Homo sapiens: one gene and its partner. The protein of the gene in region 2 interacts with the protein of the main gene of each other region in a pairwise test. Each region holds a gene or a part of one and is shown on either strand. Other genes may lie near its edges.

What was found. The genes of interacting proteins can lie anywhere in the genome.
Region 1: the proteins of RAP1B (region 2) and RALGDS interact in binary tests that used the Homo sapiens proteins (3 or more experiments, as listed by UniProt).

The regions. Positions count from the first base shown.
Region 1 is NC_000009.12:133,104,235-133,111,274, forward strand, and holds part of RALGDS (ral guanine nucleotide dissociation stimulator), read right to left. Parts: intron 6,256-7,040; coding exon 6,062-6,255; intron 5,488-6,061; coding exon 5,392-5,487; intron 4,633-5,391; coding exon 4,439-4,632; intron 4,173-4,438; coding exon 3,754-4,172; intron 3,067-3,753; coding exon 2,851-3,066; intron 2,515-2,850; coding exon 2,411-2,514; intron 1,783-2,410; coding exon 1,698-1,782; intron 98-1,697; coding exon 29-97; intron 1-28. UniProt on the Homo sapiens protein: Functions as a guanine nucleotide exchange factor (GEF) activating either RalA or RalB GTPases and plays an important role in intracellular transport. Interacts and acts as an effector molecule for R-Ras, H-Ras, K-Ras, and Rap.
Region 2 is NC_000012.12:68,669,866-68,672,408, reverse strand, and holds the end of RAP1B (ras-related protein Rap-1b isoform 1 precursor), read right to left. Parts: 3' UTR 508-2,543; downstream 1-507. UniProt on the Homo sapiens protein: GTP-binding protein that possesses intrinsic GTPase activity. Contributes to the polarizing activity of KRIT1 and CDH5 in the establishment and maintenance of correct endothelial cell polarity and vascular lumen.

The sequences.
Region 1 (7,040 bases), on a different chromosome or scaffold from region 2:
GCCCCTCCGCGGCCTTGGGCACTCTCACCGTCTCCTTCGGCCGTTTCTGGGCTCTCTTGGGGTTCATCTCCAGGGTGGCAAACTTGGAGGTGCCCTCCTGCCAGGGTAGAGGACAGGGTCAGCAAGGCCCTATCCCCTCAGCCCTCAGGCACCCTGACCTGGGGTGCTGCCAGTGTGGTCGGGTTCCAGGGCTGACCCTGTATCAATACTCACTAGTGTGGGGTCCTGGGCCGGTGGCCTGGCCTTCCTGAGCCTGCCTCCCCCTCTGGAAAGTGCGGATGAGAACTCCGCCTGCTGCATGGTGCGGTGGCTCACGCCTGTAATCCCAGCATTTTGGAAGGCCAAGGCAGGTGGATCACTTGAGGTCAGGAGTTTAAGACCAGCCTGGCCAACACAGTGAAACCCCATCTCTACTAAAAAATACAAAAATTACCTGGGTTGGTGGTGCACACCTATAATCCCAGCTACTTGGGAAGCTGAGGCAGGAGAATCCCTTGAACCCAGGAGGTGGGGATTGCAGTGAGCCGAGATCACGCCATTGCACTCCAGCCTGGGAGACAGAGCGAGACTCCTTCTCTAAACAAATAAAAAAACTCCACCTGCCTCGCAGGGCCTCAGAGACTCTGCGCTACAGTCCTGTTATGGCTGCACACTCCTTTCTCCCTTGAACCTTCCATAAGGTCAGCACCCCAGGGCTGGCATTCCTCCATTTTCTAGATGAGGAAACTATGGCCCTGAGATGGGCAGTGACTTGCCCTGGGCCCCCCAGGGACTCAGAACAGGCTCTTCTGTCCTAGCCAGAGGCTCTGCCCCATCTGCCTTTACCCGTTTGGTCACTGATCAGGGTACCGTCCTCTGGGCTTCTCGTGCATGCCAGGGCCCCCAGTGGAGCTGTGCCACGGAGGGAGAGGGACAGGTGTCCCAGGAGCCCCCTGCGATGCTCCCCTGTAGGGAACTCTGTGTGTGTCCACGCAGGAGGGGGGCCCTAGATGCCATTTCACTGACCGGGTATGCCAGGGGCACCAGGCAGTGACACTTGACTCCCTCTGAGGCCTCGTGAATCCATTAGTCACTGAAAGTTCTCCTCAGTCATCTGGGGTATCCGCCACAGCTAATGGGGTGCCATGGGAAGAATTCTACAGGGTTCTCTGGTCAGTGTCTCTTCTCGGGGCAGGGTAGGGAAGCCACATGGGGCCTCCAAATCTGCCTCCCAGGTCTGGCCACCTGGCCCCTGGCATCCCCTGCAGCTCCTGTCCCTGGGGTAGGCAGGCTGCCCTCTCCTTGGGTGTGTAGAGCAGACAGAGGTAGCGTCAGGAGCCTGGCCTCCCGGGGACAGACTGGGCCGGTGTGGGGGCAGGAGCCGCATCCCCTTCCCACCCAGCAGGAGGGACCGGCGAGGAAGCCAGAGGCCTGCTGGTCCTGATGCCCATCTACTCCTCCTGGAACCTCCACTGCTACCCTTACTGTGTCCAATTAACTGGGGCCCTGTCCCTCAAACACCCAGGGGCCAAACAGATCCCTCTTCCCCCTTCACGCACACGGGAAAGGAACTTTCCCAGCAAGAAGCGAATGCCACCGCCCGCCGCCCCAGCCCCCGCCCCAGCCCCCGCCCCAGCCCCCGCCCCAGCCCCAGCCCCCGCCCCAGCCCCCGCCCCAGCCCCCGCCCCAGCCCCCGCCCCAGCCTGCCGCCACTCCACCTTGATGAGCAGCTCCCGGCTCAATGAGTAGTTGTTCTCATCTGAGAAGATCTCTGACAGCTTCTGAAAGATCCGGAAACTGTCCCTGTCAGAAGGGCAAAGAAGGAAAGAGAAAGCTGGGAATGGTAGGGAGGGGTGTGAGTGCAAATCCGTTTTATTTTAGAGCTGAAAGACCCCAGACTGCCTGAACGCAGCACACAGGGTACCCCAGAGCACTAACGCTCTGCAGGTCTGGGGAGGGGGCCTTCATGTTGGTGCAACAGGACCCCATTCCCGTTTCCACTGAGCAGCTATTTCCAAAGGGGTTTTTTTCTTTTTTTGGAGACAGTTTCAGTCACCCAGGCTGGAGTGCAGTGGCCAGATGTCGACTCATTGCAACCTCTACCTCCTGGGTCCAAGAAATTCTCCTGCCTCAGCCTCCCAAGTAGCTGGGATTACAGGCGTTAGCCATTGCGCCTGGCACAAAGGTTTTGATTTCAATTGGATGAGGGTTCTGTGGCTACAACACGAATACCTGAAAATCTCTGATGTGGCTCAACCCACCATCTGACAGCTTAGGAAGCCGAGCTCTGAGGCAGAGCTGCTGCCAACTCAGGTCAGTGAAGGGTCCCTGCCCTCAGGGTTTGTGGCCTCCCATGGGCTCACTAAGGGGGTGATGCCAGCCCTGTGGGAGGTCCCTGGTGCACCAGGAGCTCCTACAGAGGCATGCCCACCTGGAAACGTCTTCCCACGTCTTCTTCAGACGGTGGATGGAGTTGCTCTGCAGGGCAGAGAGGATGGCATACAGTGACGAGAAGTTCTTGAGGATCCGGCACTCCTGGGGCGGGAAGAGCAGGAGGCATGAGGTGGGGCTGGAGCTCCCAGCTTGCCTGGCCTCAGTCCCCCTTGGCCAAGCCTCCCCTCCTAATGAGACAGACACCCAGGGAGTCCCCAGAGGGCACGCCTGCGACCCGGGGGTGACAGGAGGATTTTAGCTCAACCCAAGGAAAGAGTGTAAGGAAGACGTGAGCATCCAGGCAGTGGGCTGGGAGAGTCAAGGCCAGCATGCCCCTGGGAAGGGTAGACTGGGGCCTGTACAGGGCCTTGGACTGCAGACCACAACCTGAGAACAGATGAAGCCAAAGTGGGGGCCCAGGCCCCTCCTCTGGCATACCCTGGCCACCTCGATCCAGTGCTCCACCACCCTGGCCCTGTCTGGGGCTTTCGTGCTTCGGTTCCCGAGGCAGGTGGTGATGACACAGTTGGCCACACTGTTGAACTGGGTGACAGTGGCGCGGATGGTGGGCGCCAGGTGCTCCTTGCCCTTCTTGTCCCGCTGGGACCAGATGGAGCCCAGGCAGTGGTAGGGCACCACCTTCTTGAACAGTTCCTGGGGAGGAGGCTAAATGTCACCTGGTCCTGCCCCAGCAGTCTGGGCTGGTGCTGGGGAAGCTGAGGATGCAGCTTGAGCCTTGTGGGGATCTCTGGGTTTTATCCCGTGTCCATGCAGGGTGCCCAGCACACAAGTGACCCGGGACAGAACGCTGGTGGGAAGAAGAGGAGCACCGCCTCGCGCAGCCTCACCAAGCCCCAGCTCCAACAGGCGGCTCACGCCTGCCCACCCCCCATCCCCCCGCCTCAGTCTGCTCCCCATCCAGACGCACATCTGCTGTGGGCGCTACAACTAAGGGCTTTGTCCAGTGTCTGCCATAGGCTCCAGGACACACCAAGTGCCTAATGAGTGCTGAGGCTGGTGAGCCTCCTGAACAGATGGGGGTGACCCATGGATGCACCTTGGTGAGCACCCTCCGCTCCCACAGGCCAGGCCTGCTGAGCTTCCTGTCTGTTCCATCTAGAATCTGCACAGTCACTCTGGAGGATAGGGGTGACCTCATCTCTACTGTCCAGAGGTAAACTGAGGACTTGGGGTTAAGGAACGACCTGGTTACTTGGTGTGTAGCAGCAGAGCTGGGATTTGACCAGAACATCAGCTCTGGATCAGCAAATGGTAGGTCTGGGACAGCAGATGCTGCCAGAAGGCAGGCCCACCCCTGCCCTGCCAAGCTGAGCTGCTCACCGCATCCATCAGTGTAAACTGCTCTGCCACCAGATCTGGAGGGAACACCAAGAGGTGAGGCTTCTCCTCACTCAGCCCGTTCTCTGCAACCACAGGTGAAGGCCAGGAAGGCTGTAATGATGGAACTGGTGCTGGAGCTGGCTCCAGCTCTAGAGTTTGTGAGGGAGCTGGATCCTGTTCTGGAGCTGGCTCTAGTTCCAGAGCTGGCGCTGGAGCCGATTCTAGTCCCACAGCTGGCTCTGGAGCCTGCTGGAGCTCCGGAGCTGGTGCTGGAGCTACTTCTAGCTCTGAACCTGGAGCTGGTGTTGGAGCTGGCTCTGGCTCCGGGGCTGGAGCCGGCACTGGGCTGGGTGCTCGAGCTGGTGTTAGAGCTAGCTCGAGCTCTGGAGTTGGTTTTAGAGCTGGCACTGGTGACAGAGCTGCAAGAGGAGAAAAGTTCAACAACATGCCAGCCTTTCCTGTGCCTTTCCAAAGACACAGAACAGCCCCGGCTTCCAGAGAAGCCTCTCTCCCCGAACCCACAAAACGTGTACCAGGCCACTCTCCTGCCTGTGGTCCCTGCCTGTGTGGTCTGAGGCTCATCTGGGCCCCTGACCCAGCACCAGACCCTGGAGCCTCCTCTTCGTGTGGCCCAGCACCGACCCCTCCTCATTCACCCTCTGGCACCCACCCCAGTCCTCCTCACCCTCAGGCTCTGCCTCAATGGGTTCCGAGTGCTCCAGCTGGGCCAGGAGAAGGTGGGCACGGCGCTCCAGGTCTGAGCCTGGCATGTTGAGCTGCACGTAGGCCACCAGCTGCTTGAGGCAGGGAAAGTCCGGAGGTTGACAGAAATCCTCCGAGTACTGGTCCAGCCAGGTGCCCAGGATGGAGGAGATGGCACTGGGGACAGGTGGGTGGCAGCAGAGTCAGAGGCCTGGGCTCCCCTGAGCCAGGCTGGGCTCCTGAGCCGGCCCCTGTCCATCTGAAGGCCACCTGCCCCGGCCCAAGCCCCCTTGGCTGTCCAGCTAAAAGAACCAAGGAGGCCCCTGGTCAGTGGCGAACACCTCTCCCCTCCTCCAAGGAAGCCCCGCCCACAGCTCTGCATGTCTCCCAGCACCCCCTCCTCGCTGGAATGTAAACTCCATGAGGGATCGGTCCTCCTGCCGGGCATCTGCAGGTCCCTGGCGGCTCCTCAACTTGTAGCTCAGTGCTGGTGAGCTGCCTTACTCTCTCAGAGCTGTGTGTGGGTCTCATCTTCCCACTAATCCTGTTCTCCCAGAGGGTGGGGTGCAGCCTGCCCACTGAGCACTCACTATTGAGGGGTGAGGCAATGTGAGAGCAGAGGCTCACCCCACCTCTTGCCAGGGGCCCCTAGATCAGGGCCCACTGAGCCAAGGCCAGCTGGGATGAGGCTATGGTGGGATGAGTTCCCGCCGGGGGCTGCCCCGAGCCCCAGCCACCCCAGGACCCCTCCACAGCTCTCGGTCGTCTTTCTTCCTGCAGGCGAAGCCCCCAGACCCCAGCCCTCTAGCAGGAACCACAAGAGGTGTGGGAGCCAGGGTTCTGCCCAGCCAGCCCCGGCTCCGGCCCCAGCCCCATGTACTCTCCCACTGTTCGGTGGGGACAGGGTCCCTTCCTCTTGGCTCAAAGCTCACTCACTTTTTAAGTTGGTCCTGGGGTCCACCATCCTCGTCGGAATAGGGGAGGATGCAGCCGTATCTAGAGGAGGCCGTGAGGGCGTCACATCTACCGTACCTGCTTATGACGTCTAGTGTTACTGTCTGACTCTCCGACTAGAACGGAGGCCCAGGAGGGCAGGGATTTTTTTTTTTGCTTTTTTTCATCAAATTATATTAAATGCCTAGAAAAGGGCCAGCACACAGTAGGTGCTTCATATATATTTGTTCAATGAATAAGTCCCAACCAGCTCCTTCCCAGCTATCTGAGCGCCCCTTGGGTCCCTCCAACAGCCCCCAGATAGAATCCGGAATCTCCTTGACAAGTGGGAAAACTGCTTCGCCCAAGGCCACATACAAGAGAGGCTTGGGGCAGAGAGCTTCCCCATGGGGGACAGGAAAATCATAAAAACGAGCACCACAGCCCCGCAGCCCATTCCCTACAGGGCCAGGCGTTGAGGGAGCACTTTCCACGCCTCATCCCGCCCAGGCATGGTGACAACCCCATGAGGTCCTCTTAGCACTCCAGTTTCTCTTTCATATGAGCAAAGCGAGGCTCAGAGAGGTGAATCAGCATTGCCAAGACCCGCAGCCAGGTGGGGGTGGGGGCGAGGGCCCCTGTGCACCCTGTGCAGTGGAGGGCTCATGCTCACCTTTTGAACAGCAGGTCCAGGACCTGTTGGGTGGTGGTGAAGGCTCTATAGGTACACAGGAAGATGGTGACGTAGGAGAGGTCGCTGCCCTGGAAGGCTGGCACCAGGTGCTCCACCAGCTTCTCCAGCGTGCCAGCCTTCACGGTCCGCACCTTGCAAGTCTCATAAAGGTTCAGGGCCGACTCATTCTCATACTGGGGTGGGACAGAGGAGGGACAGACAGTCAGTGGCAGCACACGAATCTCCTGGAGCTCAGATGGAACCCCGAGCCCTCAGCAGCTTGTGGCAAGAGGCAGGACTGAGTATCTCTAGCAGAAAAAGGTTATCAGCTTTAAAAGTAGAATTTCAGGCCAGGTGTGGTGGCTCACATCAGTCATCCCGGCACTTTGGGAGGCCAAGGTGGGAGCATCACTTGAAGCCAAGAGTTTGAGACCAGCCTGGGCAACAAAGTGAAATCCCCCAGCTCTACAAAAAAATTGTTTACAAAACTTAAAAATTAGCCAGGGCCAGGCATAGTAGCTTACGCCTGTCATCCCAGCATTTTGGGAGGCTGAGGTGGGCAAATTGCTTGAGCCCAGGAGTTTGAGACCAGCCTGGGCAACATGGCAAAACCCCATCTCTACAAAAAATACAAAATTAGCCAGGTGTGGTGGTCCCAGCTACCTGGGGAACTGAGGTGAGAAGATCGCTTGAGCCCAGGAGGTCAAGGCTGCTGTGAGCTATGATCATACCTCTGCATGGCAGCCTGGGTGACAGAGTGAGACCCTGTCTCTAAAAGAGTGAAAAAATTTTTAAAGTAGAATTTGAGGTGCGGGAATGATTTAAATACTGACACCTTCAGGTCCGTTGTTAGCTGAGTAATGGTAGCTGCCCTGTGGGAAGAGCGTCATCTGAGAGCTCTAACAAAATATCCCCATTCTAGAGATGAGGAAACAGAGGCTTATCCAGGGGCTGGGAGGGACTGGCCCGTTAGGACGCA
Region 2 (2,543 bases):
AAACATATTGGCATATAAGAGCAAACTATGCGGCTTTTATAAATGGAAGTGCATTGAAAAGCATAAAATGATGGAATACATATTGACAATGCAATATAATGTTAAGAAAAAGTTGCGTCTATCATGAACATTGCCCTTGAAACTTGTTTAGAAGCTGAATCTGCTGCAAAAAGGGCATTTGGGAAATCTGTGCTTCAGAATCCATCCTGCCTACCTATTTGCAACTTTAAATGATTGAGTTTAACTTTTAGGAAACCCAACATCCTAGAGAAGTCTTTCTGCTTCTTTGTCCTTCACAAGATCAACTGAAGTTCTCTAGCTGTGTAAAAAGGCTGAATTTCAGGTAATGAAAGAAAGTTAAACTGCTTTGGTTTTTTGAATTATTTTCTTGTTTAAATATAAGGTTTAAGTATAATGACAATTATTTTTAAATTTCTAAAATTAATTTTACTCAAAGATAGCATAACAATGTTAAGGAAAAGGAAATAATAATACAGTCATCCATGATACTGTTGCCAGCACCATAATTTTTATTAATGCATATTATCCTCCCATGTATTTTACATTCATATTTTACATATAATGATGACATTCATATAGCTTTTTTTTTTATATTCCAGAAAATGTTATTTACTTGTTACTGACAATGTCTCTTCTAGACGAGTCATCCTGTTTTTTCTCCCGCTGTTGTACTTTTGCTTTTCTTTTTCCACCTACTCAGATCCTTCACTTCCTCACCCCTACTCCTATATCACCATGTCAGGTAATGCATATTAACAACTTGGTAAATATCCTTCAGTTGCTTTCTTCATCTCCTTTCCCAGGTGCCCACATGCATCCCTCACATACATCCTTCTCGGTATTCTGTTTTGTTCACTTTGCACGGGAATCCTTCTAAGTCAACCTTTAAACATCAAACTCATTTTTAAATGAATGCATAATGTTCTATATTATGCATGAATCATAATTTATTCAACTATTCTATTGATGGGCATGCACTCTGTTTTTCCTTCTAGAGTGTGGCAATAAATAATCTTGTGCATTTCCTTTCATTTCCTTGGTGTAGATATCAGTAGTAGAATTGAGGTCAAATATGCATATTTAATTTGAACAGATATCAGCTCTACAATGCACATTTCCATCAGCAATAAATGATTCATTTCTTGCCCTTTACCTCTCTTCTGGGACTGTAGTGTTCTCTGAAGTTTTCGTCCATGTGTTGGGCTCGTTGGTACTTTGATTCGTATTTCTCTGGCTACAGTTAGAGCATCTTTTTATGTTGATGGGCCATTTGGATTTGTTCTTATCTAAACTGCCTAGTTATATATCTTTCAACCATTTATCTTTTGAATAGTTTACCTTTTTTTTTTTTTTTTTTTTTAAACGGAGTATCACTCTTGTTGCCCAGGCTGGAGTGCAATGGCACCATCTTGGCTCACTGCAACTTTCGCCTCCTAGGTTCAAGCAATTCTCCTGCCTCAGCCTCCTGAGTAGCTAGGATTACAGGCATGCACCACCACACCCAGCTAATTTTGTATTTTTAGTAGAGATGGGGTTTCTCCACGTTGGCCAGGCTAGTCTCAAACTCCTGACCTCAGGTGATCCACCCGCCTCGGCCTCCCAAAGTGTTGGGATTACAGGCATGATCCACCGTGCCTGGCCGTGAATAGTTTAATCTTTTATCTGTGCTATACTTTCCCAAATTTGACTTTGCAATATATTTTGCCAAATTTTAAATTTATATATACAGTCTGTGACTTACAGTTTTACTTATAATTTTTCAGCTTTGTGATGGATTTATCAGGGTATTAAATGCATTTTCGACTTACATTTTTGACTTCTGATGGGCTTATTGGGACATAACCCCATTGTAAGCTGAGAAGCATCTGTGTGTACACACACACACACTTATTATTTACTTGAAATATATATCTTAAATATAGCTTCATTTTTAAAAATTAGCTAAGAAGGTCTACCCTATCTCTAGATTTCTAGTCTCTTAGATTTTCTTCTAAGACTTCTACTGTTTTACTTTATAGCTTGAAAACATTTTAATATATCTGGAAAGTGCTTTTTGCATGATATAGGGGTTGAACTTTTATTGTCTTTAGACAGATAGTTAGTTGTGCTAGCATTTTACTGATACTATTTTCTATTGAAATATATTTTTGTCGGCCGGGCACAGTGGCTCACACCTGTAATCCCAGTACTTTGGGAGGCTGAGGCGGGCAGATGACCTGAGGTTGGGAGTTCGCAACTAGCCTGACCAACATGGAGAAACCCCATCTCTACTAAAATACAAAATTAGCCCAGGCGTGGTGGCACATGCCTGTAATCCCAGCTACTCGGGAGGCTGAGGCAGGAGAATCACTTGAACCTGGGAGGCGGAGGTTGTGGTGAACCAAGATCGTGCCATTATACTCCAGTCTGGGCAACAAGAGGGAAACTGTCTCAAAAAAAAAAAAAAAAAAAAGAAAGAAAAAGAAATATATTTTTGTCACGTATAAACGTCATATACTGGAATCTAGTTCTGGACTCAGTTC